Linked DNA regions of Homo sapiens. The protein of the gene in region 2 interacts with the protein of the main gene of each other region in a pairwise test. Each region holds a gene or a part of one and is shown on either strand. Other genes may lie near its edges.

Region 1 (7,628 bases), on a different chromosome or scaffold from region 2:
CTGTTTTATAGCCAGAAATTTGGCTTTAAGATTTTTTGAAAAGTACTACTTATTACATTTTCTATTAATATGCAATATCAACATATTCTAAGCCCATAAAATGATCTGGCTTTCTTTAAGGTTCCTTTCAATAATAAAATATTCAAATATCTGTTATGTTGTTGATCAACTGTAGAATACTAACTGTATATCACTCTTAGGCTGTTCAACAGAACCTAGGAACTGGCAGAAACTAATCTAAAACTGACTTCTCCATTGTAATCTCAAGAGCCTCCCTCAGTGCACATACCATAAAAAAGCAATCTACCACCTATGACTCTTAATTTTTAATTTTTTTTTATACCGAGTCTCTCTCTGTCGCCCAGGCTGGAGTGCAATGGCGCAATCTCGGCTCACTGCAACCCCCACCTCCCGGGTTCCAGCAACTCTCCCTGCCTCCGCCTCCCGAGTAGCTGGGATTACAGGCACCCGCCACCACGTCTAGCTGATTTTCTTGTATTTTTAGTAGAGACGAGGTTTTGTTATATTGGCCAGGCTGGTTTCGAACTCCTGACCTCTGGTGATCCACCCGCCTCGGCCTCCCAAAGCACTGGGATTACAGGCATGAACCACCACGCCTGGCTTTAATTTTTAATTTCTATCACAGAACAAACGTTTGCCACTGGAGGCTGCCAAACTGTTTCTATGACTGTCTCTCTTAGCTATTTTCAGATACTGCCAAGGCATAATGTGTGAGGACTAATACGATTCTTTGTACTAATACTTTGTTTTCTTCAGTGGCAGTTCAGACAGGGTACAAAAGCTGATCTTTTAGCTGGGTAAGGTCTATATTAAAAATTTAAACCTGTACAGGATTTCTAATCACTTAACACATTTTAATACCAATGGGGGAAAAGCTTGAACTAGGTATAAAATGCTGTCTAAATCCTTGATTTAAAAAAAATTTACTTCGCTTGGCCTGTTTAAATACTGTACTTTGGCCCTGTTCTCTTGTCCCACGTGTGCTTAAGTAAACAAAAATGTATTAACCATTTCAGTTGATATAAGTAGGCAGACACCTTGTGTTCACATTTATGTAACCAGAAGCAAAAACTCTGTAAGCTATGTATTTACTTGGTTGGATTAAATGTGTATATATACACAGAAGTACAAACAACTAAGAAATAAATTACATAATTCAACACCAAAAATCTCCTATTTCTTATCCCTATTCCAATGAACAAACTACAAACCAAAGCACTTCTAAAATATCTTCCAGCTATCAAGCACTGAAATCAGAAGTATATATTTTTAAGTGTCAATAAATCTTATACACCTACAGATTAAATTAAGGAGAAAACCAGCTTACTTCCAGACTGCCAACCCTATGACTTTAAGGCTTGGAGGTACTCTCTCCAATAACAGGTCACTTTAGGTCTCTAATTTAATTATTTATTCTTATTGTAGTCACCACTTTTTTTTAAAGCTTAGTATTAATCAGTGCACAACCAGGATGCACAATGTTGCTCAACTGTATGATATACCAACAGGTTCCATGAGTCTGGGGTTTATTAACATAATCCAAAATGTATGCTACAACCACACTGTAAAAAAAGGGCGTCTAAATCAACTACCCTACACAAAGTTCCCTGAAAACAAAGTTCTCTCAAAACAAAGTTCTAAAAATCTTTAACTTGCATAACTGGCACATGGGGGTATAAATCTACAACTCTTCTAAGTTTTTTCTCCTTAGTTCTGCTAAGTGAAAACACAAGTCATTATCAACGTGTACTTGAAAAGAGAAAAAAAAAGAAAAAAGAAACCAGAGACACGCCTGCTGGGTATAGGAGCTCCACCCCCAAAACTCAAGGTGAATATCCTTACCAGTCTTTAATAAGCTCTGCATTCTGGTCTGTTCTCATCCCACATACCTTGTTAATCATGGAAAGCAACTCCGAACTAAAACTGGTTTAAAGAGAGTCCGAGGTGTTGCTTATACGTCTGGACTTCAGAGACTGGAGGGTTGGGACTTTACATGCCCCTAAACGTGGCCTTACGGAGTAATACAGCGAGGGAAAAAAGGAGATCAGTGGCAAAAAAAAAAAAAAAGGGGGCAAGGAAAAGAAAACGGTGAATTACAGAGCCCAAAACTTTAGTTTAGGTCCCAACTTCAGAAATCTCCCTTCCCTGGTGCCCCATCCATCCCAGGAATCAGGAGACTCAAAAAAGGTTAAGGGCCAGCGTTGACCTGTGACAACTAAAACGATTTTGAAAAATCCAGCCAAAGAAACAAAAAAAAAAGGCTGCGAGGAGAAATGGGATGGAAGAAAGATGAATGCTGAGAGCTGGTCTCTGGGGCGCCACCGGGGACCCTGGTTTCGGGGGAAGAACTGGAGGTGCCCGTAGCTGCGGGGGGACGGTGTGTGTGTAGGGGCGGGATGGGCCGTCCCAGGTGCGGCGGCCGAGGCGCGGGGGTCCCGGAGACGAGAAGGCTGGGCAAACTAACCCGGTGCCCAGAGGCCTCCCTGTCCGAAGGGGGTTGTGCTTCAGCTGCAGGGGGTCCTTCCCCTCCCCTTCCAACTCCTCACCCGGGCCGTAGAACTTGCTGCCTTTGGTCACGTCGAAGACTTTCCCATTGACCGCGAGCAGGATGCGCGGGTTGCGGGAGCCGTCGTACTGGCGCAGCTGCTCCAAGCTGAAGTCCCGCTTCTTCATGCGAGGCAGAGAGGTGGCGGGGCTCTCCTCGCCCGCCCCGGCCCCGGCCCCCAGACCCCGCCGCCCCCAGCGCACCCACAGCCGGTAGGCCCCCAGCAGCACCAGAGCCACCAGCGCCACGTTCAGCAGCATTTCCCCGCCCCCCGTCAGAAGCGCCAACGCCGCCGCCGCCCAGCCTCCCCCTTCCGCTGCCGCTCCCGCGTCGCCTGGACTCTCGCTGCCGCCGTCGTTGCTGCTCTCGCTGCCACTCCCCAGGGTGCCTAGCTTCACGTCCCCATCACCAGCCGCCATCACTGCCCGCCAGCGCCTTCCTCCTCCTCCCCGCCCCCTGCCCTCCCCAACCCCACGGCCGGCCCCGCCCATCTGGGGGCCTCTCAGCCAATAACGTGAGAAGAGGGGGCGGGGTCAGGCCGGCTCCTGATTGGGTGTTGACGGGGTAACGTTGTCTCGGATCTCCCGCCCCCTCCCTTCTTTCGCTGGCCGCGCACGCGTGCAACGCCCCGCCCACCTCGCCCCACACTTCCCTGCTCTCACTCCAAGCCTCCGCTAGGTTAAGTAGACGAGCCGGGCGGGTCTGAAGAAAAGATGCTACGACGGCCGCGCGGACGCTCATGGGCGGGGCGAGACCACAGCGCGTGCGCGGGCTCCTGAGCGCCACGCGCTCGCCTTTCGTTCGTAACCCCTGCGGGAGGCACGCCCCGCCCAGTCTCCAGGCTCTGCGCGTGCGCCCTGGAATCGCTTCCCTTCCTAGGCCTGCGTTCGCGTCCGCAAACTCCCGCCTCCTTGCGCTCCCCCCGCCCGGGAGCTTCACGTGCGCCTTGGCGGCCGCGGGGGCAGGTCCGGGCTGGACGCCTGGCGGAGGACGCGGGCAGGTGGCTTGTGGGAGGCTGGGGCATAGTTGAGCTGCAAGGCGCAAACCGATGAGGGGCGTCTGCTTTTCACCAGGGCGCCGTCGCTTTTGTCGGGAAACCGGCAGCGTAGGCGCGCAGACCGGGAAGCGGCAAGAAGATTTGGCCACGAGCTGGGGTCTTCCTGGAACGGAGAGAAAGCACGGAACCCGCACCGGGCTTCTCTGGCATCGGCAGTCTACGTGCTCCTCGCGCTGGCACCGAGCAGCCACTCCCCGCTGGGTTTGGCAAAGGCTGCTCTTGTAGAATTTTAAAGGATTTAGAGTCTCATTATTCCTTGAATCATAACTTCTGCGGCCGTAGGGAAGTGGACAGGTTGAGGTGGTCTTTCTATTCGTCATTCACTCTTATTTGCAGGTTCTGTTTCATGTACTTGGACGTCTTTTAGCCTCTCACACCTTGAAATTCTAGTGTGAAAAAGTGACCTCTGAAGTCTCACGCACTCAACTCGTTTGACGAACTCGTTTGACGTGTTCTCTCTTGCCCTTTGTTGTCTGTTGTCTTGAGTCTCATAGAATAGGTTTGAACCTTTCACTGTCGGTTTTGTAGGAGTCACTGAGGATATTGACGAGGCAAGTGACAGGGTCGACACTCTTGTAGAGAGGCTGTATAGCAACCAGGTGTCTGAAGGATTAGAGGCTGGGGAAAGAGTGGGAAAGCAGTTAGTAGGCTAGGGTATTTGTGCGTGAGGTGAGGAGACTCAGAGCTAGGGGAGACATTAGAGCAGGGGTTGGCAAACATTTTTTGTAAAGGGCCCGATCATATTTTAAGTCTCTGCCTTAACTACTCAGCTCTACCTTGTAACGAGAAAGCAGCCATAGACAATACTTGAATGAGTGTAGCTGTCTTCAGTAAAACTATGGACATTGAATTTTTAATATAATTTCAGGTATGAAATATTCTTTTGATTTTTAAGAAAATCATTGAAATATGTAAATTTTTTTTTTTTTAGTTCTGGAGAGGTGCAAAAACAACTTATAAGCCATATTGCTGAGCCCTGCATTAGAGGTACCTGAGGGAGAGCGACACAATTGGTAGTAAATGACCATATACTCTATCCTTCAATATGGAACACTTTTGGAAGTAAAGTAGGGCATTAATAATTATAGCCAGAGACCAGGAGTTATATCAGTTTTATCCCAGGCAAACCTAAAGGAATAGTCACCTTAAGGTTAAGGGTTAGGAGAAGTCAAAATTGCTTTAGGACTTGGTAACAGAAAATGGGAGGTGCCAGTGATGGAAATAGGAAGATAAAGAAGAAACTGGTTTTGAGGAGAAGATAGCTGTAGCAGTCCCAAGAGCTGTATACAGTTGAGACAACATTGATAGGAAGGAAGAAAGCACCCCAGAAGCAGGCCACTCCTTATATCTTATTGACCAGAACTGGGCTATTAGCTGTCCCTAAAGCAGTAACAGACAAGGAGCATGGGACATCCATGATTGCCTAGTGTTTATCTGGCTTTTTTAATTCTTATTCAGGACTGTGTTGAGCATTGCTGGACATTTACCATCTCTGGTTCCTTCCAGCTAAATGTCAGTACCACACCTCAGGCATTGTGACACCGTAAATCAACCGTTTTTCCCTCCCACCCCCCAGAGGTGTGGTACTGGTTGAGAACCAGTAGCTTAGACCCTCAGGATTTACCTTGGGGCTGAATTAGTGTGTGTAGGTTTCTTTTCCAGTTGGTTTGGAGGGAAGAGAGGAATTGGACAGTATTAAAGTTCTGCTGTCAAGGAAGTGGGCTGGGGAATGTTGGGTAGCTAACCAACATTGGCTGCCACGTGAAGTAAAAAAGTTTTCCTTTATATCCTTGATAAAATAGTGTCTCGACTTCTTCACACTTGAAGCCTTCCCAAAACCCCAGCTTTTTTGATTCTCATTGTAAGCCCCTTGAACTGGACTAGTTGGAAGTTCTTATTTTCCACCCTAAGTAACAAGCTCTTGTCCCAATAGGATACTCTTGCTTTGAGTACTGCAATAACTTTCCAATTGGTGACTTGCCGTCAGTCTTTTCCTATTTCATTCCTACACGAAGAGACTAGAACTGTGTTCTGATTTCCTTTGCTCAGACACCAATCTCCAGGGGTGCTCTGTAATTTGAAGAGGACAACTCAGAAAGCACTCAAGGGCCTCCATAAGTCCCTGAGTGGCTTCCCTGCCTTCCCGTTCCCCAGCAAACAATCCCTTGGATACCCTCTATTAAATGATACGTTTCCCCTTACAATACCTAGTCCCTTGCCCCATATATGCTATGTGTATTGCACAGTCTAGGACTTGACTCATGCTGTTTCCTCACGGAGCATGCCCTTCTTATTTCTAACCATACAAATTCCATGACCTATCCATTCTTTCAATTCTACTTCCACCTGAGGCCTCTATCAGCCCACATTAACCTACCTTCTTTGAATTTCTGTGTGTTCCTTACCTGTACCACCCATTTTGGCCTTTTATTTTATGCTCTTCTTGACTATTCTGTTATTGAAACTGTCCTTTAGATCCCAAGATTTCTACTTTTTCCCTGCGGATGCTTTTTTATTTTTTTTATTTTTGACTTCTTTCTACCCTCCTTTTCCTCTTACATCCCTGCTTTGCCTAGAGGACATCTACAAGAATCGTCATGTACATTCTTTTCTCCTGTTGTTAGCTTTTTTCCCCTGACACTTCATCTATTTACTGATTTACTTGTAAATCTCTGGAAGATATTAGTACTAGCCACCAAATATTTCTATTTCTTTTTCCACACACGTAGATTTGGATTTCCCTACTCCTTTTACCTCAAGAATGGCCAATGAAATGTGATTGGAAGTGACTTGTGTCATTTCCAAATAAAAGCTTTAAGAGCCTGTGGACATTTATCCTGCGCTGTTTCTTCCTGCCAACAGTGATGAAATATTTTAATTATCTATTGTCCCATGACAAAGCACCTTAAATCTTAATGGTTTAAAACAGTCACCATTTTATTATGTGTAACAGTTTTGTGGGTTGACTAGGCTCATGGGCAGTTGTCTAATCTTGCTCAGGGTCTCTCATGTGGTTCCAGCCTGGTATTGTTTGGGGCTGGAGTTTTTGGAGGCTCAACTAGGTTGCTAGAGTAGCTGAGCTTTTCTATTTACCCATGCCGTTCCAAAGACTCTCTGATTCACATGGCTTCTTCAGCAGAGTAGCCTGACTTCTTTCTTGCATGGTGGCTTAGGATTCTCAAATGCAATAAAAGCAAAAACTTCGAGGTTTTGTAAGTCTTAGGTCTGGAAATGACATGTTGTATTGGTAAAAGCAGTTACAGGGCCAGCTCAATTTTAAGGGGAGAGGAAATAAACACTTGATAGGGGTGGAGGGAGAGTGACAAAGAATTTGTGGCCATCTTTATTACAAAAATTTTTGTCAACCACAGAGTTACAGGAAAATGTGGCCATCTTTAATCACTACTCCAACGATGTTTCAAATTGAGTGGGCTTCCATCAGCCAGGGTCTCGGAGACAGGACAAAGTGGAAAACAGCTCCCAAATAACATACCTAGGTATATGAATAAGAAATACATCTCTGCTGTCCTGAGTCACTTAGCTATTTGGAGTTGTTTGGTATCAACTTTTGCATACTAATATAAAAATTGGTACTGGAAATAGGGTGGTGCTATAACAAAAATCTAAAATATGAGTCACTGACATATATAATAATTGAGTTAGAAATACTAGTGGTTGGTTGTTAGGCAGCATCCAGCTTTGACTCACTTATGCATTTCCCAGTGAACCTAGCTCAGAAGTTTGCACCATGATATTCAATAAATAATTCTTAAATAAGAGAGATTGTTTCTTGTAATTTTTCCCTATTTTAGGGAAAAACTTTTTTTTTTTTTCCATATCACATTTTTCTTGAAACATTGGAGTGCCACGAACATATCATTTGATGCTCTGTTTGAGTGCCACCAGTGAGTTTCCCGATGTTTAAGTTTGGCTCGTGGGCAGCCCACCTTCTTCCTCTCCACTTTCTCTTGGGAGCCATCCTGCTCATGGAAAGTGTGCTTTCTC
Region 2 (7,595 bases):
TGAGGGAATTCAGAGACCAGTGCTGGTGCTGGTCCTCCGCATGCTGAGTGCCGGTCCCCTGGGCCCACTGTTCTTTCTCTATACTCTGTCTCTGTGTCTTATTTCTTTTCTCAGTCTCTCGTCCCACCTGATGAGAAATACCCACAGTGTGGAAGGGCTGGCCTCCTTCAGTTCTGAATCAAGGCAATCATGGTAACAGTGACAATGAAGAGGATACTGTTACCACTACAGAAAAAGTGCCTATAGACAGCACGGTGAGGATGTGGGAGGGGATTACTGTGGCACTAGAGCAGCATACATTCATAACGGAACAAGAAATCAGGCAGTTTATAGAATCCAAGAGAGACTTCTAAGATAGAAACCACAGTTAATGAGGCAAATGACTCTGGAGGAAACATTTTAAAAAGCCATCCAGCAGAACACTTCCTCATCCCTAGAGGACCCGCTTCCTGTCCTTCAACTGCTTCTAATGTTTCTTCTCACCTTAAAAAAATAAAATATGGTGTCCAGTAACCTTTTCACCAAAACAGCTGAAGACTGACAGCCTGCCGTTTTTGTTGCTGCTGCTATGGTTCAGAAGCTGATACAGGTGTTCTGGTGATCTGCTGTGCTGCTTAGTTACCCTGAACACACAATTTCTCACTGTATTAGTGGTATATCATGTTTTATACTGTTAAGTACTTCTGTGTGAATAGGTATAAGAAAATGACTGCTTCTTGGTAGCATATACATTCAGAGTCAGGAACGATGGGGACGCTAACCAACCAGATTGTCCACGTGTGGCTGAGACAGTGACATCTTTGCTTTCTGATGGATCAATGAACACAAACTTTGTTTCATGCACACCATTGAAAATACTGTATAAAACTGCCTTTAAGGTATGTGTATAAAGTATATATGAAACATAAACGAATTTCATGTTTAGACTTGAGTCTGATCCCCAACAAATCTCATTATATACATGAAGATATTCCAAAATCCAAAAAAAATTCCAAAATCCAAAACACTTCTGGTTGCAAGCATTTTGGATAAGGGATATTCAATCTGTATAGGCAACATGTTGGTGACATCACATGAAAACAAAAACTACTGACCCAAGCTCCAAATGCATTCCAAAAATACGGCCAACAAGCCGGGCGCAGTGGCTCACGCCTATAATCCCAGCACTTTGGGAAGCTGAGGCGAATGGATCACCCGAAGTCAGGAGTTCGAGACCAGCCTGGCCAACATGGTGAAACTCTGTCTCTACTAAAAATACAAAAAATTAGCGGGGCAGGGTGGCACATGCCTGTAATCCCAGCTACTTGGGAAGCTGAGGCAGGAGAATCGCTTGAACCCGGGAGGAGGAGGCTGCAGTGAGCTGAGATTGTGCCACTGCACTCCTGCATCCCAGCCTGGGTGACAGTGAGACTACGAGTCTGGAAAAAAAAAAATAGAGATGGGGGTCTCCCTATGTTGCCCAGGATGCCTCAGCCTCCCAAAGTACGAGGATTAAAGGCGTGAGCCACCGTGCCCGGCCCAGTTTTCTCAGTCTTAATGGTAAAGGTGTAAACAGGAAGCTCCTGTTTTCTCAAAAAAATCCAGAGAGGCTCACAAGGGATGTGGCCAGACTGATGCTACGAATGGAAAGCGCTTTTCCTTAGATCTATTAGGTTGGCTCAAATGTAATTGCGGGTTTTCCATTACCTTTAATGGCAATAACGACAAAGAAACCCCGCAATTACTTTTGCACCAGCCTAATAAATATCCCCTGCGAGCAGTAGTGAAAGACAAAGGACAGTGGCAAAAGCCATGGGGCCTCCTCGTGTAGAACATGTAACAATTTCCCTTTTCTGTTCTATTTCCCTCTCTGGGTGGCATGGTACCAAACTGTATTTTTTTTCCTTAAACAATTTTTTAAAAGCTGTACATATTCAGCAGATAGTCACTCTATTATTTACAGCATCATCTGGTATCCCAGAGCATACACAATACCTTCCATTCTTTCCAGGCTCTCCTCTCTCCTTCTCAGGACCAACTATATCTTTTTTTTCTGGAGCTCACCAATTTCCCCTATCCTGGGCAGCTGGCAGTTTTATTCCATCAATTGCATTCTTATGCAATCTTCCACAAAGAGAATAGGGATAAAGGGGAGGGGACGGGATTTGGGATCCAGATGATTGAGACTCAGAAGTCTGTGTGGGGAATGGAGTGCGGCTGCTAGGCTGGTGAGTGGGATGAGGGTCTTCCAGATGTGGGAAGTAAGACTGGGTTACAAAGCACCACTCTAATCACTGGGGAGACCTGCCTGAATTCTACCTAATGGGGCACGAGTCCATACATATATACACATAAGAGCCCAGCGAAAGCAGGGCTGAAAGCAGCAATACGTGAGGCTCCAGGGGTGCAGCTCACCTTTCACGAGCCAGGTGGCCGTGGCAGCTGAAACAGTGGCTTTTGCGTTCCCCACCCCTATGCCCAGCAAGACTGCCTGGGTGGCTAGGGAGCCGGAGAGGCTGGAAGCAAACGCCTGGAGAAGAAAACAAGTAGGGTGAGAAGCGGGCGTAGGAGCGTGGCGGTCTAAGTGCCTTCATCTGTTCTTGTTCTTGGTGTATGAGGCATGTCAGACCCCCCGCCCCCCGGGCTCCGAGTCTCAGTCACCCGTCCATTATTGGGGAGGGAGGAGTGGCCTGCACTGTCCTCTGCCCCAGACGACCGAGCTGACCTGCACGGAATCCCACAGCTGGTAGGGCAAGTAGTCCGGGCTGACGCTATCAGGGAAGCCCTGAGGCAGGAACACGGCCTGGAGCCCGGAGAGGGGCGGTGAGGGGGCCCCGGAAGCCCCCACTTCGCCCGCATCTCGTCCTTCAGGTTTGACCGTGAAGGCCCTGGAGAGCCCCCACCAGCGCCAGCCCCCGACCTCCCACTGCAGGCTCCCGTCCGCGGCGGCGCGGCAGCCCCGTGCCTCCCCGGAGCCGAACTGCTCGGAACACAGCGGGGTCTCCAAACCCGCGTCGTCAGCCATGCCGAGCTTTTGGATCCCAGCCCCGCCCCTGCCGCACGGTGGACGTGGCAGGCGGCACTTCCGGCTGGGCTACCGCGGCTGCAGAGGGACATCTTTCAAGAACAGGCGCCGGCCTCGGCGTCCGCCGCGCAGTTAGGAAACTGACTGTCGCTCTCTCCGGCCTCGGCGCTGCTTCGGACGCCCCGGCACCGGCCCCCGTTGCTTTGTAGCATTCTGCAGCTGGGCTGCAGGCGCCGTGGGCCTCCGCCAGTTGTGTTCGAGACGCGGTTCGGCCACAGAAGTTTTAGCTTGTGACTTTTGGCAAGTCAGTGGCCCTCTCTGGGCCTCAGGTGCCTTTTTTGCTGTGAGACCAGCGACTGTATTTTTAACCCTGATTTTATCCCTAGATCTACCCAACACATAGTAGGTGCTCAAAAGATATTTATGAGTGAATGAATGCATCATGAGAAGAAATTGGACCAGATGAGGCCCTGTGAAGCTGCTTGGGTCTTTTTTTGTTCTTTTTTTTTTCTCTCTTCTGAGTGTCCCTGGCCTGGACTAGAAATTCTCCATCCTTCGGCCTTCTGCGAGACTGCAGGAACATTACTTTTGAAGGATGCTAAGGAATCCGAGGGATGAAAAAAATCAAGAGATTGCAATGATGTCACAAAACAAGGAAACAAGGCAGGAAGTTCTTGTGTGTTTTTTTGCGGGAGAGAGTCCATGAAATTGGGGGGAGTCCAAAGAGGGAGTGTTTCTGTCCTTGGAACTCACCTTTTCTTCTTTCCATTTCTCCTCTTCTCCTTCCCATCTAGTGCAGCATCTTCACTCCGAAGCAGAAATTTGCCAAAAAAGCATCCTCTTTTTATCAGAAAATAAAATATCCTGGTTTCTTAGCCTGGCATTCTTGGATCCCCACAGTTTGATCCCAACCGACAACTCCTTATTTGAAACTTCAGATTCTCCCAAACCGTCACCTTCCTCGTGGACTTAATCCTGGAAGGCCCTTCTACCCCACTTCGCCTTATCTCACACAAACACAGTCTCTCTCTGACTGAGATAAACTTGAACACTTCTTTTCTTTTCTTTTTTTTTTTCTTTAAATTTCGGGTTTCAAAATACAAATGGCCTAATCACAACATTTCTGTAATGTTGTCTAAATTCAGGTACTGGTTTGAATAGAGGACAAAAATAAAACAAGGTTTGAAGACTAAGTACTTTAAAAACATATTTATTTAAATAGAGGCAGGGCCTCCCTATGTTGCCCAGGCTGCTCTCAAACTCCTGGCCTCAAAAGTGATCCTTGGGCTGGGCGTGGTGGCTCACGCCTGTAATTCCAGCACTTTGGGAAGTCGAGCCAGGTGGATCACTTGAGGTCAGGAGTTTAAGACCAGCCTGGCCAACATGTTGAAACCCCATCTCTACTAAAAATACAAAAATTAGCTGGGCGTGGGGGTGGTGTGGCCATAATCCCAGCTATCCGGGAGGCGGAGGCAAGAAAATCGCTTGAACCGTGCAGTTGTCATTAACTCCGTGTTTGTTATCTCTTTTTTACCAATGGTTTGCCAGTTTCTTCTACAAATACCTGTTGCTACCTATGTGCTCATTGGGATAGTGAGCAAAAACAAACAAGGGTCTTGGTCTTTTGGAACTTATATTAGGGAAGGATATTGATCAAATCATACAAATAAATGCAAAGTTGGAACTATTTCAATTGCTGTAGAGGGGTACATGTTATTTAATATGAGGACTTTTAGAAGGAGAATTGAGCTAATCAGTGGAATCAAGGGAAACTTTTTTTTTTGAGATGGAGTCTCCCTCTGTCACCCAGGCTGGAGTGCAGTGGCACAGTCTTGGCTTACTGCAACCTCCACCTCCTGGGTTCAAGTGATTCACCTGCCTCACCCTCCGGAGTAGCTGGGGTTACAAGCATTCACCACCACACCCAGCTAATTTTTGTATTTTTAGTAGAGACGGGGTTTTGCCATGTTGGCCAGGCTGGTCTTGAACTCCTGGCCTCAACTCATCTGCTTGCCTCGCCTCCCAAAGTGCTGGGATTACAGGCATGAGCCACTGTGCCCGGCCAAGGGAAATTTTTTAACAAAAATTTAAGTTGGGGTCTCTCTGTGTTGCCCAGGCCTCCCGCCTCGGTCTTCCAAAATGCTAGGATTATAGGCATGAGCCGTTGAGGCCAGCTGGGAAACTTTTTTTTTGAGGAAGTGTGTATTTAGCTGAGATCTAGAGTAAGAGTTAACTTGATTATGATGGGAAAATAATTTTCTGGAAAGAAGGAGCAGCATGTCCTGAGTGGGGAGGGAGCATGGTACCTAACATCCAACAAAGGCCGGTGCAGCAGAAGTCTAGAGCACGAGGGGCATGGGGAAAGGGCTGCTAGGGAGTTAGGGGCCAAACTGCAGGACATTGTAGGCCAAGCTCTTCTTCATCCTTAGGGTTAAGATTTATTTTTTATTCTATCAGTCAATCAATCAATCGATCGATGAGACAGGGTCTTGCTCTGTCACCCAGGCTGGAGTGCAGTGGTGCAATCATAGCTCACTGCAGCCTCAAACTCCTGGGCTCAAGTGATCCTCTTGCCTCAGCCTCCCAAGTAGCTGGGACTACAGGCATGCACCACCATGCCTGGCCAACTTTTAAAATTTTCTGTAGAGATGGGATCTCACTATGTTGCCCAGGCTGGTCTCCAACTCCTGGCCTCAAGTGATCCTCCCACCTCGGCCTCCCAAAGCTCTTGAGATTAAAGAATATATTGGTATATGTTGGAGTGGCACTTTAGAGAAGTAGTTGAATAAATTTAATTTTTTTTAAAAGACAGGTTCTCTGTCACCCAGAGAGTGCAGTGGTGTGATCACACTACAGTCTCACTACAGCCTCAACTTCCAGGGTTCAAGTGATCTGCCTCAGCCTCCCGAGTAGCTGAGACCACAGGCGTGTGCCACCATGGCTAGCTAATTTTTGTATTTTATTTTTGTAGAGACAGGGTTTTGCCATGCTGCCTAGGCTGGTCTCAAACTCCTGGGCTCAAGTGATCTGCCCACCTCAGCTTCCCAAAGTGCTGGGCTTATAGGCATGAACTGTGCCTGGCAGAAATTTAATGTTTAATTCTTATTTTCCATTTAGCTTATAACACTGTCAATAAATTATCCTTTCAAAATAATTTTGAGTTTCCTGGCACAGTGAAAGATCAAGCATTGTGTTATATTTGAAAGGTTAGCTTCTGTGAGTGGATAGGACTCTGGGGCATCAGAGGGCCTTACTGTGAATGTAGGTTCTGTCCAGGAAGCTGTCCAGGAAGCTGTGAGATCTTGGGCAAGTTACATATCTCTCTGTCTTTCAGTTTCTTCTTCTGAAAGACGAAATGGTAATGGTAAAATGGAAATAATACTAGTACCTACCACACAGAGTTGGAACGAGAATTAAGAGTCATGTCTTGGCCGGGCGCGGTGGCTCACGCCTGTAATCCCAGCACTTTGGGAGGCCGAGGCGGACGGATCACGAGGTCAAGAGATCAAGACCATCCTGGCCAACATGGTGAAACCCCATGTCTACTAAAAATACAAAAATGAGCCAGGTGTGGTGATATGTGCCTATAGTCCCAGCTACTTGGGAGGCTGAGGCAGGAGAATTGCTTGAACCTGGGAGGTGGGGGTTGCAGTGAGCCGAGATTGCGCCACTGCACTCCAGCCTGGGCGACAGAGCAAGACTCTGTCTAAAAAAAAAACAAAAAACAAAAAAGTCATGTCGTATGTGCAAAACTCTTAAAGTATTTAGCACATAGTACATACTGTTTAAGTGTTGGTTCTTATTCAGAGATAATGTCAAGTGTTCAAATGTGAGGCCCTTGGCTCCAAGTGAGGCAGGTGGCCCTCATGACTAGTGTCACTGTATAATTTATTGTGCAAACCAGGACTTTTGAGAGGGTCATTAAAGGAAGCACTGGTAATAATTGTGTTGGGAAAACAGGTCTGCGGGAAAACAGGTCTGCAGTGAAGCTGTCTCAGGCAAATGGGAATATATGGTCACATTATTTATGAACCCACTGCAGCTCTACTGCTTACCATTGTCCACCTTGACATCTCCTTACTCAGAGACTATGACAGTCCCTGTTCGTTGTAGCATTTACTTAACTCTTAGCCTATGCTGTCTGGAGCCAGTTTGTATTTGCTTTTGTTAGGTACAGATGTCCTGTCTTCCCAAGTGGACTGTAAGTGCCTGAGGGCAAGGACCCATCATACACTTCCCTGTGACCTGAGTGTGCAGATAGGTGGCTTGACAAAGAGATGAGTGATAGTTCCCCTTTCTCTATGGCTGACTGCCACCGTCACTACTTGAAACCCTCATTATGATAGTTACTACTGTTACTGTTTGAGACCTTCACTACGACAGTTACTACTGACTACTTGAGACCTTCACTATGACAGTTACTACTGTTAGTACTTGAGACCGTCATTATGACAGTTGCTGTTACTACTTGAGACCATCAGTACAACAGTTACTATTGTTACTACTTGAGACCATCATTATGACAGTTACTACTGTTACTACTTGAGACCGTCATTATAACAGTTACTGCCATTACTCTTTAACACCCTCA

What was found.
Region 1: the proteins of RUSF1 (region 2) and PGRMC2 interact in binary tests that used the Homo sapiens proteins (3 or more experiments, as listed by UniProt).

What each region holds. Positions count from the first base shown.
Region 1 is NC_000004.12:128,284,806-128,292,433, forward strand, and holds the start of PGRMC2 (membrane-associated progesterone receptor component 2), read right to left. Parts: upstream 3,009-7,628; 5' UTR 2,986-3,008; coding exon 2,568-2,985; intron 1-2,567. UniProt on the Homo sapiens protein: Required for the maintenance of uterine histoarchitecture and normal female reproductive lifespan. May serve as a universal non-classical progesterone receptor in the uterus.
Region 2 is NC_000016.10:31,505,370-31,512,964, forward strand, and holds the start of RUSF1 (RUS family member 1), read right to left. Parts: upstream 3,023-7,595; 5' UTR 3,005-3,022; coding exon 2,705-3,004; intron 2,510-2,704; coding exon 2,395-2,509; intron 1-2,394.